Linked DNA regions of Homo sapiens. The protein of the gene in region 2 purifies or fractionates together with the protein of the main gene of each other region. This does not show direct contact. Each region holds a gene or a part of one and is shown on either strand. Other genes may lie near its edges.

What was found. Proteins that work in one complex are often made in the same cells at the same time.
Region 1: the proteins of KCNV2 (region 2) and AMZ2 purify together in Homo sapiens (affinity purification with mass spectrometry; one large-scale study listed by BioGRID and IntAct). This does not show direct contact.

What each region holds. Positions count from the first base shown.
Region 1 is NC_000017.11:68,249,955-68,254,883, forward strand, and holds part of AMZ2 (archaemetzincin-2), read left to right. Parts: intron 1-231; exon of another isoform or gene 232-233; coding exon 234-516; coding exon of another isoform or gene 517-526; intron 527-839; coding exon 840-1,013; intron 1,014-1,095; coding exon 1,096-1,224; exon of another isoform or gene 1,225-1,433; intron 1,434-4,449; coding exon 4,450-4,613; intron 4,614-4,929. UniProt on the Homo sapiens protein: Probable zinc metalloprotease.
Region 2 is NC_000009.12:2,723,220-2,728,342, forward strand, and holds part of KCNV2 (potassium voltage-gated channel subfamily V member 2), read left to right. Parts: intron 1-5,123.

The DNA.
Region 1 (4,929 bases), on a different chromosome or scaffold from region 2:
ATGGGAGCAGGTTCCATATGAGATGGAGGAATGGATTTCATGATTGTCTTTTTAATTTCTTAGATCTCCAAGAAATTGGACATGAGGAAACCACTCTAAGTGTGACCACTCTAAAGCATTAGCAATCAGTCATTTCACTCTAGGGAGAAATCAGAGCTGAAATATAGAGGATAGGTAAAGTCCCCAATGTAGATATGTATTTTTATATTTGATTACTTGCTTTTTTTTGTTAGATGCAAATAATACGGCACTCCGAACAGACACTAAAAACAGCTCTCATCTCAAAGAACCCAGTGCTTGTATCACAGTATGAGAAATTAAATGCTGGGGAACAACGTTTAATGAATGAAGCCTTCCAGCCAGCCAGTGATCTCTTTGGACCCATTACCTTGCATTCTCCATCAGATTGGATCACCTCCCACCCTGAGGCTCCCCAAGACTTTGAACAGTTCTTCAGTGATCCTTACAGAAAGACACCCTCTCCAAACAAACGCAGCATTTATATACAGTCCATTGGTAAATACTGGTAATGTGCTGGTTTTGGTTCAGTTTTGCAGTGGCGCTCTTGTCAGGAATAGTCCAGGCTATGGGTCTGATTCAGATGGGCCGTTTTAGGATCGTTTTTGATATTCATTGCGGCGGTACAAGTTTTGTAGCCAAACTGACTTAAAAGATAACATTTTGTTTCTTTTTGTTTCATAGCAACACCAATGAATGATAAAGGTTATTGAAAATTTAGAGTTGGTTTTGTTTCTAATTTGAATCTTCTTACTCATAGACTGGGTAAACACTGAATAATCATCTTAAAGTCTGTTTTTAAATGTTCTTCCATATTGTAGGCTCTCTAGGAAACACCAGAATTATCAGTGAAGAATATATTAAATGGCTCACGGGCTACTGTAAAGCATATTTCTATGGCTTGAGAGTAAAACTCCTAGAACCAGTTCCTGTTTCTGTAACAAGATGTTCCTTTAGAGTCAATGAGAACACACACAACCTACAAATTCATGCAGGTGAATTACACGACTTTGCAATTCGAACTGAGTATATGTATATAATATACACTCATACATTTATGTATTTCTTTTTAAATAGGGGACATCCTGAAGTTCTTGAAAAAGAAGAAACCTGAAGATGCCTTCTGTGTTGTGGGAATAACAATGATTGATCTTTACCCAAGAGACTCGTGGAATTTTGTCTTTGGACAGGCCTCTTTGACAGATGGTATTCCGTTTTTGGCATTGTTGTTAGAAGCTTCTTCAGCTTGAGAATATTTGAAGATGTTAGAAGAGGGAAAAAATTCCAACCAAGAATCATATTGATATTTAAAATATTTTCAGTTGAGACATTATGCCATAATGGGAAGTGTGCTGTTGGTAGATTGTGATAATCTAGGTTCTGGTTGGCCACTCACTACCTACAGGACCTTAAAGGTAACAATACCCACATCATGGAGTCATTTGGAGATAATTTACATAAAAGTGCCTGTACATAAAAAGTGTGGATAAGCCTGGACAACATAGACCACATGTCTACAAAAAAATAAAAATTTAAAAAACTAAATTAGCTGGGCATGGTGGCACATACCTGTAGTCCTAGCTACGCAGGAGGCTGAGGTGAGAGGATTGCTTGAGCCCAGGAGGTTGAGGCTGCAGTGAGCCATGATCGAGCCACTGCACTCCAGCCTGGGCAATAAAGTGAGACCGTGTCTCAAAAAAAAAATGTATATATAGGCCTGGCATATATATAGGCATACAGCATAACAGCTAGTAAATGTCAGTAATTCAGTAGCAAGGTGAATTAAACCAATTACAGTTTGAGCTATCAATGGATGTGAAAATCTTGCTAATTATTTTTCAATTCTTTTCATAGTCATCTTGCACAGTTAGAATAGCCATAGACTAAGTGTATGCTTCTTTCTCATCATACGACATTTGTTTTTTAATTTAAAGAGTCAAAACGTCCATCTTTGATTTGAGATATGTAATAAACCTTGACTCATTAGGAACTCTGTATGGTAATATTAGGGATGGGAAAGGTTCTGCAAACCGGTCATATTTTTAACCTTTTTTTTTTTTTGTCATCTCTCTACTTCTCCCCTCCCCTTAATTATTGTTCTTATTTCTCTAACTTCATCCCTAAGAATCCAACACAGACTTGAAAGGGAAAAGGCCCCCTAAGGGGAGTGGTTCATTAGTGTTCTGGGGATGGGGAGTAAGTACAGGGACTATCCTGAGAGTTTATGGTCTGTCTGGATGTTACATTAGCCTTAGGATTTGTGTGGGGTGGTAAGCTTTTTGGGACAAATGTTTCTACTAGAGGTGGGGGCTGTAGGGTTATAGAGCCTCTTCCCACTTACTCCTTTATTCTTTATTCTCCATTTATGTGAGGTTTCTTGTGGCCCCCATGGCCCTACCAGCATGCACTCTTGGAGACGTGGGTCACTACTTTCTTACTGATTTTGGTGGTGTGAGGTAGCTTTTTATCATAAGTTTTCTCTTTTATTATTAACCTGATAGAGATGGAAACATTGAAAAATAATTCTATCTACCTTTTATTTTTCTTTTGAGACAGAGTCTCCCTCTGTCACCCAGGCTGGAGTGCAGTGGTGTGATCATGGCTCACTGCAACCTCAACCTCCTGGGCTAAAGGGATCATCCTGCCTCAGCCTCCCGAGTAGCTGGGACCACAGGACCACCACACCCGGCTATTTTATTTTATTTTATTTTTGGCCAGATGGGATTTTTTTTGGCCAGATGGGATCTCCCTGTGTTGGTCAAGCTCATCTTGAAGTCCTGGGCTCAAGCGAGCCTCCCATCTCAGCCTCCCAAAGTGCTTTGATTACAGGTGTGAGTCACCACACCCAGCTAAAAAAATAATTTTAAAACCATATGTTCGTTTATCTAGATATTGCTAGCTAACTTATCTTATGTGTTTGAGGAGGTCAGGAAACATTTCCCCAAACTGTATTTACTTTAATTCTTTTTTTGGTAAGTTTCTTAAATATTACATGACATAAAAGATTTACATAGGAAAGTAGCAGGATTAGACAGTGACAATATCTTAACACAGTGGTCTTGTTTTCTCCGAGTTTACAAAGATTGATATTTTTAAAGTGAGACGCATTGACTACGAAAAAAATAGTCTATTTGTAGGATTATTGGAAGAAGGAAATGTCCTTGCTGAAAGTAGTGAAATATGCTCACACTTGATTGGCCAGAGGGGGTTACTTGTGATAAAGGAATAGATTTAGTGTGCTCTTAATTTCCAGAATGCTATCTTTGCTTAATTTTCAAATATCAGTCTACATTTTCTGGGTAAAGGGAGGTGAGGAAGTTTGTTTTTGAATCAAATTAGATTGGACAAATCTACTATGGGTTTATTACTTTAAAAACTGAACGAGAGACATAAATAAAAGTGATCATGTAAACAAGTCGAATTATGAAGCAGTACCCTGTAGGGTGAGTTATGTAGCAAACCGTGTTCTCTGTGCTTGCAGAGATGGTTGATATAACTCTAAATGTAACACAGGAAGTCAGTTACAAGGGTATTTATTCTGGTCACCAGACACTAGTGACAGAATAGAGTTGAGCTGTTCTTTGAAAAGGGGGTAGGGTTGGGGAAGGGGACGAGGTTATTCTGTCAAAAGCCGTGGTTTAAAGCATGGGCTTCAAGACATCAGGGGCAGTTGTCCTCAGTCAGTGCTGCGTGAGGGAAGGCCAGCAACCCCTCCAGACACACGTGTAACAGATCTGTTTAGTGTGTCCTTAAATAGTGAAATCATGACTTCCTATTGTTCATGTGATTTTTTTTTTTTTGAGACTGAGTATCACTCTATCGTCAGGCTGGAGTGCAATGGTGCGATCTTGGCTCACTGCAACTCCGCCTCATGGGTTCAAGCCATTCTCCCGCCTCAGCCTCCCTAGTAGCTGGGATTACAGGCACCTACCATCATGCCTGGCTAATTTTTTTTAGAGACAGGGTTTCACCATGTTAGCCAGGCTGGTCTTGAGCTTCTGACATCAGGTGATCCACCTGCCTCGGCCTCCCAAAGTCCTAGGATTACAATCGTGAGCCACCACGCCCAACCCATGTGGTTATTTTTTATGATTCCTTTTTGAGTACTTGATTTGGAGTACTTGCTACTTTCAGAAAAAGACTTCTTTTGTGGGAAAAGACTCTCTGAAACTTCAGTTTCTCAAGCATTTGACCTCAAGTCCATTAAGTTTTACAAGGCAAGGCAAAGTGGATAGCAGCAAAAGATTTTGATAGGGAAATCTGGGGCAAAAGTCTTCCTTTTTGGTGGCAAACCATAAGTGTATCAGATGGTGTGGACACAGTGACACAGAGATGCACTCACTGGCCAGATGGGCCAGCAGTCTCTTCTTTCTTTGGTCTTTCTTCAGGGACCTTACTCTCATTCTGTCACTGTTTGTCCTTTTTTTGTAGGTGTGGGGATATTCAGCTTTGCCAGGTATGGCAGTGATTTTTATAGCATGCACTATAAAGGCAAAGTGAAGAAGCTCAAGAAAACATCTTCAAGTGACTATTCAATTTTCGACAACTATTATATTCCAGAAATAACTAGTGTTTTACTACTTCGATCCTGTAAGGTAAGTTATTACAAAAATCTGACAGGACAGTTCTTTAAAAGAGATCTTAGTTCCGTAAACTGTATATTGTCAGTCCGTAAGGTAATATTATAAATGAGTTTGTATCATTTGTATAATTTTGGTGCATAGTGCTTGACTGAAATGATCAGTAAAACAATTTAAATGGATACCTTCATATTGAAATTTACAATATCAGTGCCAGTTTTTCTGTACTACTAGTTACAGCCTTGGCTGTACCCATGTGCTATTAGTGTAATTCTGAATTCTGGTATGAGTGGGTAACCTACTTTTTCAAGCTACTGTGGTCATTGGGCAA
Region 2 (5,123 bases):
GGCATTTTATTTCACCATTCTGGGGCTGTATCCTTTGTGAAATATGCATCCCACATTACAGAGAGTTTCTCTTATCCATTCTTTTATGTATTTTTAATACTTTCAGACAACACCAAATCTGACTTGCTTTTAATAATCTTTCTTCTCTCTATGCCAAGGATCCTGCAAACTTTCTCTGTAATTCAACTCAAGGATTTAAGAAAAATACAGTAGTTTTCATTACTGTGAATTCTCCTGCAGCTGCAAAACAAATCCCTCCTGGACACTTATGTCTACAAATGCTCATGTATTAGGATGTAGGATAGACCTGTCTTTTTCATCTGTCAAATGGAGGTTATTTGTGAGCACTAATGTAATAGGAAACATATGTAAACTGCTAGCCTATAGTAAGTCTGCAATAAATAGAAGCTACCATAACTGACTAGTTGATAGTCTTTGTCACATGGAAGCAATAACCTTTGCTTCTACATTCATTTGGGAAGAAAATAAAACAGAAATGATTCTTTTTCTACTGAGGAAAAGAAAGAACCTATAAAACATACGAGAAGGTCAGCTGTTCCCTCATGGGAGAACTTCTGAGAGTCCAGATAAACAGGCCCACGCCTAAAGCAGCTCCAGCCATCTTGGGGCTCTCTGGATTGCCTGGGGGTAGGAAATGCACGGCACAGCTAAACAAGAACAATGGGCTCTATGATGAAGCTGTAATCATTGGCCTCCTGTGTGGGTATGGTTTTTTTCTTTTACTTTTTTTTTTTTTTTAGCCTCAACATATGACCACATTTTTTTTTCTTATTTTTTTTTTGCCGGGGGTTGGGGGGTGGAGGGCATGGGTATGTTTTCAAGTAGAAAAGAGTAAGTAGACTTTGAATGAACCATTTCCTTCTGAGTTTTCCAGGGCAAGTTAAAGCTGTAGAAACCAAACAGGAAACTACGGCATGAACTCACTCCTTCAAAAACTAACTTCTCAAAAAGAAAATTTATCTCTAGTTGAGGCACCATTTTGTCCCAGAGACCTTGCTCCCATCTTTCTTTCCCTAAGGTATGTTTTCATTACCTTGCCAATAGGTGGCACTTACAAGATCACTGAAATTATTTTATTTTTGTTCATTGATTGCTTTGAGGAAACCCATTTGAAAAATAAATTAGGTTGCAGTCAGGAAAATAGATACCAAGGTGAATATTTCAAACAGGGAATTTAATACAAGGAAATAGATAGTTGTTAGAAGACTAGAAGAAGAAAAAAAAGAAGACTGGAAAAGCAGAAAGAGAAAACTGAGATAATCCAGAGATTGGTAATTGCAGGGAGTAGCTATTGGCCCTAGAATTGGGAGAATAAATGGGAAAAGGTGTTGCCACCAGAAGCTAAGAGTCCACAGGAGGGGCCTCTGTGTAGCTGTTGCAAGGACTCCTAAATTGGCACCATGAGGCTGATGCCAGGAATGCCAAAAAATGCCTGAACCATAGCTATTGGCTGCAATTGGAGGAATGAAGGCAGAAACCAGAGGCAGGATTAGAGACCCTTATGTCCTCATACCATCTTCCAGTCTCTCATAGGCAGAACATAACTAGAAGACAGTGGGCAAGAGAATCTGGGAAATGTAGTTTGCAGACTCCCAGTTCTGGAATTATAAAATAAAATACAGAAGGGTGTCAGGCTTGGGACTAAGAGACAACATATAAATATCTGGCACAGAAAGTAATAGAGTTCTACCTCCTTCAGAAGTAGCACAGGAGCTATAGACGGGGTAAAGGCTCTTAGGCATTGTTACTACTTTTTATCTTATGGATTCCCAATTTTGGAGTGGTCTCCTTTTATGTCTTTAAAGTATGTTCCTCATTTTAGCCAATATGATGTGAGTGGAACATGACAGCATCATTGAGGGCACGGAGAAATGCAGGGAAGCTGAGGGTGTGGACAGCATCATTATTGCGCACCTTTCTGTGGATAGATTAATAGATCTCAAACTTACATTTGTGGCTTTGCTTTAGCTGTGCACACCTACCGCTTATTGTACCACTTACAAACATGTCAGAACTGTAATATACAGATGAGGGTTGTTATTATCCTGAAGGTAGTCACCCATGACCTCATTCTAACAGTGATTCCACTAATCAAGACATTCTTTGAATTCCACTGAGGAATTACCTTCAGAGTTTGTGACACATCCACTTGTTTCTAGGTTGTTAAATCTTTGTCTTTTTAAGGCTACATTCAGTATTTTAAAATAGTTAAGACACTTTAGTTTAAGATCGACACTTAGAGTAAACCATCAAGGTGGATATGACCGCTTGCTGCTACTGAATCTACTGTGCAGACTATAATTCAAAAGAGGAATTCCAAATATACTTGTTGCAATAATAGCATGAGTAAGTACAGCCTTTGAAGCTGGATCCTTTGAAGGACAACACGTATTGAGGCTTATAATAATTTTATCCAAAAAAGATCCATCTTCACCACCTCTAATTCCTTTGGAAAACAGAAAGAGTGTTATTTTGAAAAATAAGTTTTATTCCCTAGGATCATAAATTCCTGAATGCATGGACTACTGGGTGCCAAGATTGATTCCATTCCTTGTTCATTATGAGGGAAACAAACTTGTCTTGTTAAATGAGAAATCCAAGTATTCTCAAGTTTTGGAGAAAAATTTGATGCTTATCCTCATAATATATGGCAGGCCAGGATTTGTTGTTTAGTGAGTAAACTGCCAGGGGAAGGTCACATTCTGGCTTTGGGACCCAAGGCTAAGGAAAGTATGTACGTTTACAGCAGAATGGTTAAGCTTCCAGTTTGCAGAGTTGCTGAGCTAGCCAGTTTTCTTCAGTATATTAAGATGGATTGCGGAAATTTTGGTCACATTTCCAAACCCAACTCCTGCTAATGTGACAACTCATTCTGTGAGGTCACTTGGGTCAGTCTGGGGCCTTCAGCTTTTAATTCCCATCTAGGGAGAAATGGCTTGGCCTATGGAATGTGGAAAAAAAGTTCCCCAAAGCCAAGGAATCCTGAGTTCCTCCTGGAGCCAAGGAACAAGAAACAGATCACTTGTTGAGTCAAATTATTCACGAAATAGACAACATATAAATTAACTGTACATTTTCAACAAATTATTGGGGACCAGTCACACATAGCCTCCTAGCAGAAGAGATCTGTTCTCTAAAAATAGAGATTGAAGATATACAAAAATATTTGGATCATATTATACACATCAGATATTTATTCTTCTTTAAGCCAATTCTCTTTGCTTTTGACTTTTCACTCAAAGTTCAGCCAAAAAAAAAAGAAGTTTGGCTTAAGGGTGAAGCAAAGCCAGTGTGCAGAATGATCAAAAGTTGAAAATAAGCAGTTTATCTTAATTATTTTCTTCCTCAGTGTCTTCCTACTCTCTCCCATCCCCGCCATCCTGAACCCTTAAGTGACTTGTTTCCTCCAAGGCCTCTGCATTGGACTTCCGTGGATGTCTCATGTTCTAAACCAGGGGTCCCCAATCCCGGGCTGTGGAGTGGTACTTGTCTGTGGCCTGTTAGGAACCCGGCCACACAGCAGGAGATGAGTGGAGGGCCATCAATCATTACCGCCTAAGTTCTGCCTCCTGTCAGATCAACCACAGCGTTAGATTCTCATAGGAGTGGGAACCCTATTGTTAACTGCGCATGGGAGGGATCTAGGTTGCTTGCTCCTTATGAGAATCTAACTAATACCTGACAACCTGAGATGGAGCAGTTTCATCCCGAAACCATCCCCTCCCCCAACCCCGTCCATGGGAAAAATGGTCGTCCACAAAACCGGTCCCTGGTGCCAAAGAGGTTGGGGACCGCTGTTCTAAACTACCCCTTCCTGTCACTCACTCCTAAATCCAAACTCCCTTTAGGCCTCCTCCAGGGAAGGTTGACTAAACTTTCATCCAGAGGTGTGAGTCATGGTGTTAGTGACAAATGAAAGCTATTGTTCAGCTCACACAACTGGAGAGAGATCAGCCTGGGGTTCTTTGACTTTTGGTGTGGTCAATGACAAGAAACACACACCCGGACACAGGAAGGGGAACATCACACACCAGGGCCTGTTGTGGGGTGGGGGAGGGGGGAGGGGTAGCATTTGGAGATATACCTAACGTTAAATGACAAGTTACTGGGTGCAGCACACCAACATGGCACATGTATACATATGTAACTAACCTGCACGTTGTGCACATGTACCCTAGAACTTAAATAAAAAAAAGACACACCCACTCATGCAACCAAGAGGACTTTGAGATTAACCCACAATCTCACTTTATCACTGCCTCACATCACCCCTTGGTCCAGAAGTTGGGAGAAGGATATTCTCTACTGGAGCCAGAGGGCAGAGTCAGGGAGGAGCTTGTTTCCACAGCCTGAGGGTCTGATAAGCATAACGTATATAGAGTTGCTGGTGTAGAATGCACTCAATAAATGTTGGTCTTTGCCTCTTCTCAGTGGAGGCCAGCTTCAGCATGGGGGACCCTGGGATTGCATACATGATATATATATAATAATATTATTGCTTACACACCCTGTGCCAGGCACTCCTTCAATTCCTATAACAACTCTGTGAGGTAGATACCACACATTTCAAAAGTAGAAACTGAGGCCAAGAGAATTTAGGTGATCTGCCCAACTTATTCAGCTGGGAAGTGGATTCAGACCCACAAGTCTACTGTAGTCCGTTTCCTTCAGCTTATCTACACCACATTACCTCTCTTGGATGCCTGCTTGTATTTTGACTCTGCAGAAAAAGGCTGCATGACCTCTCACAAGAGACAGGGCAGTGAGTGACAGGAGGTGCATCATCAGCCTCAAAAAGGAGGCATACCCTTCCTTTTTTCGTGGGCTGGATGGAGCTGTGGTTCTCATCAGTGCCCTCAGTTTTGTGCAGCTGGCTCACTTCTCCATTTCATTCTAATCAGTCAACTGCACTATTCCAGGTTCAAACTAACCCTTACATCATCAAAACAAAAATATTTACACTGCTAAGCTAACGGCCACCTCAGCACGGATCAACAAGATGACCATATGCTTTACTGCCGTCTGCTGGAAAATTATGGCAACAACTACCCAAATACACAAAGCAAAGAGTGCCCCCCTGGAGTAGTGCAACGCAAAAATGT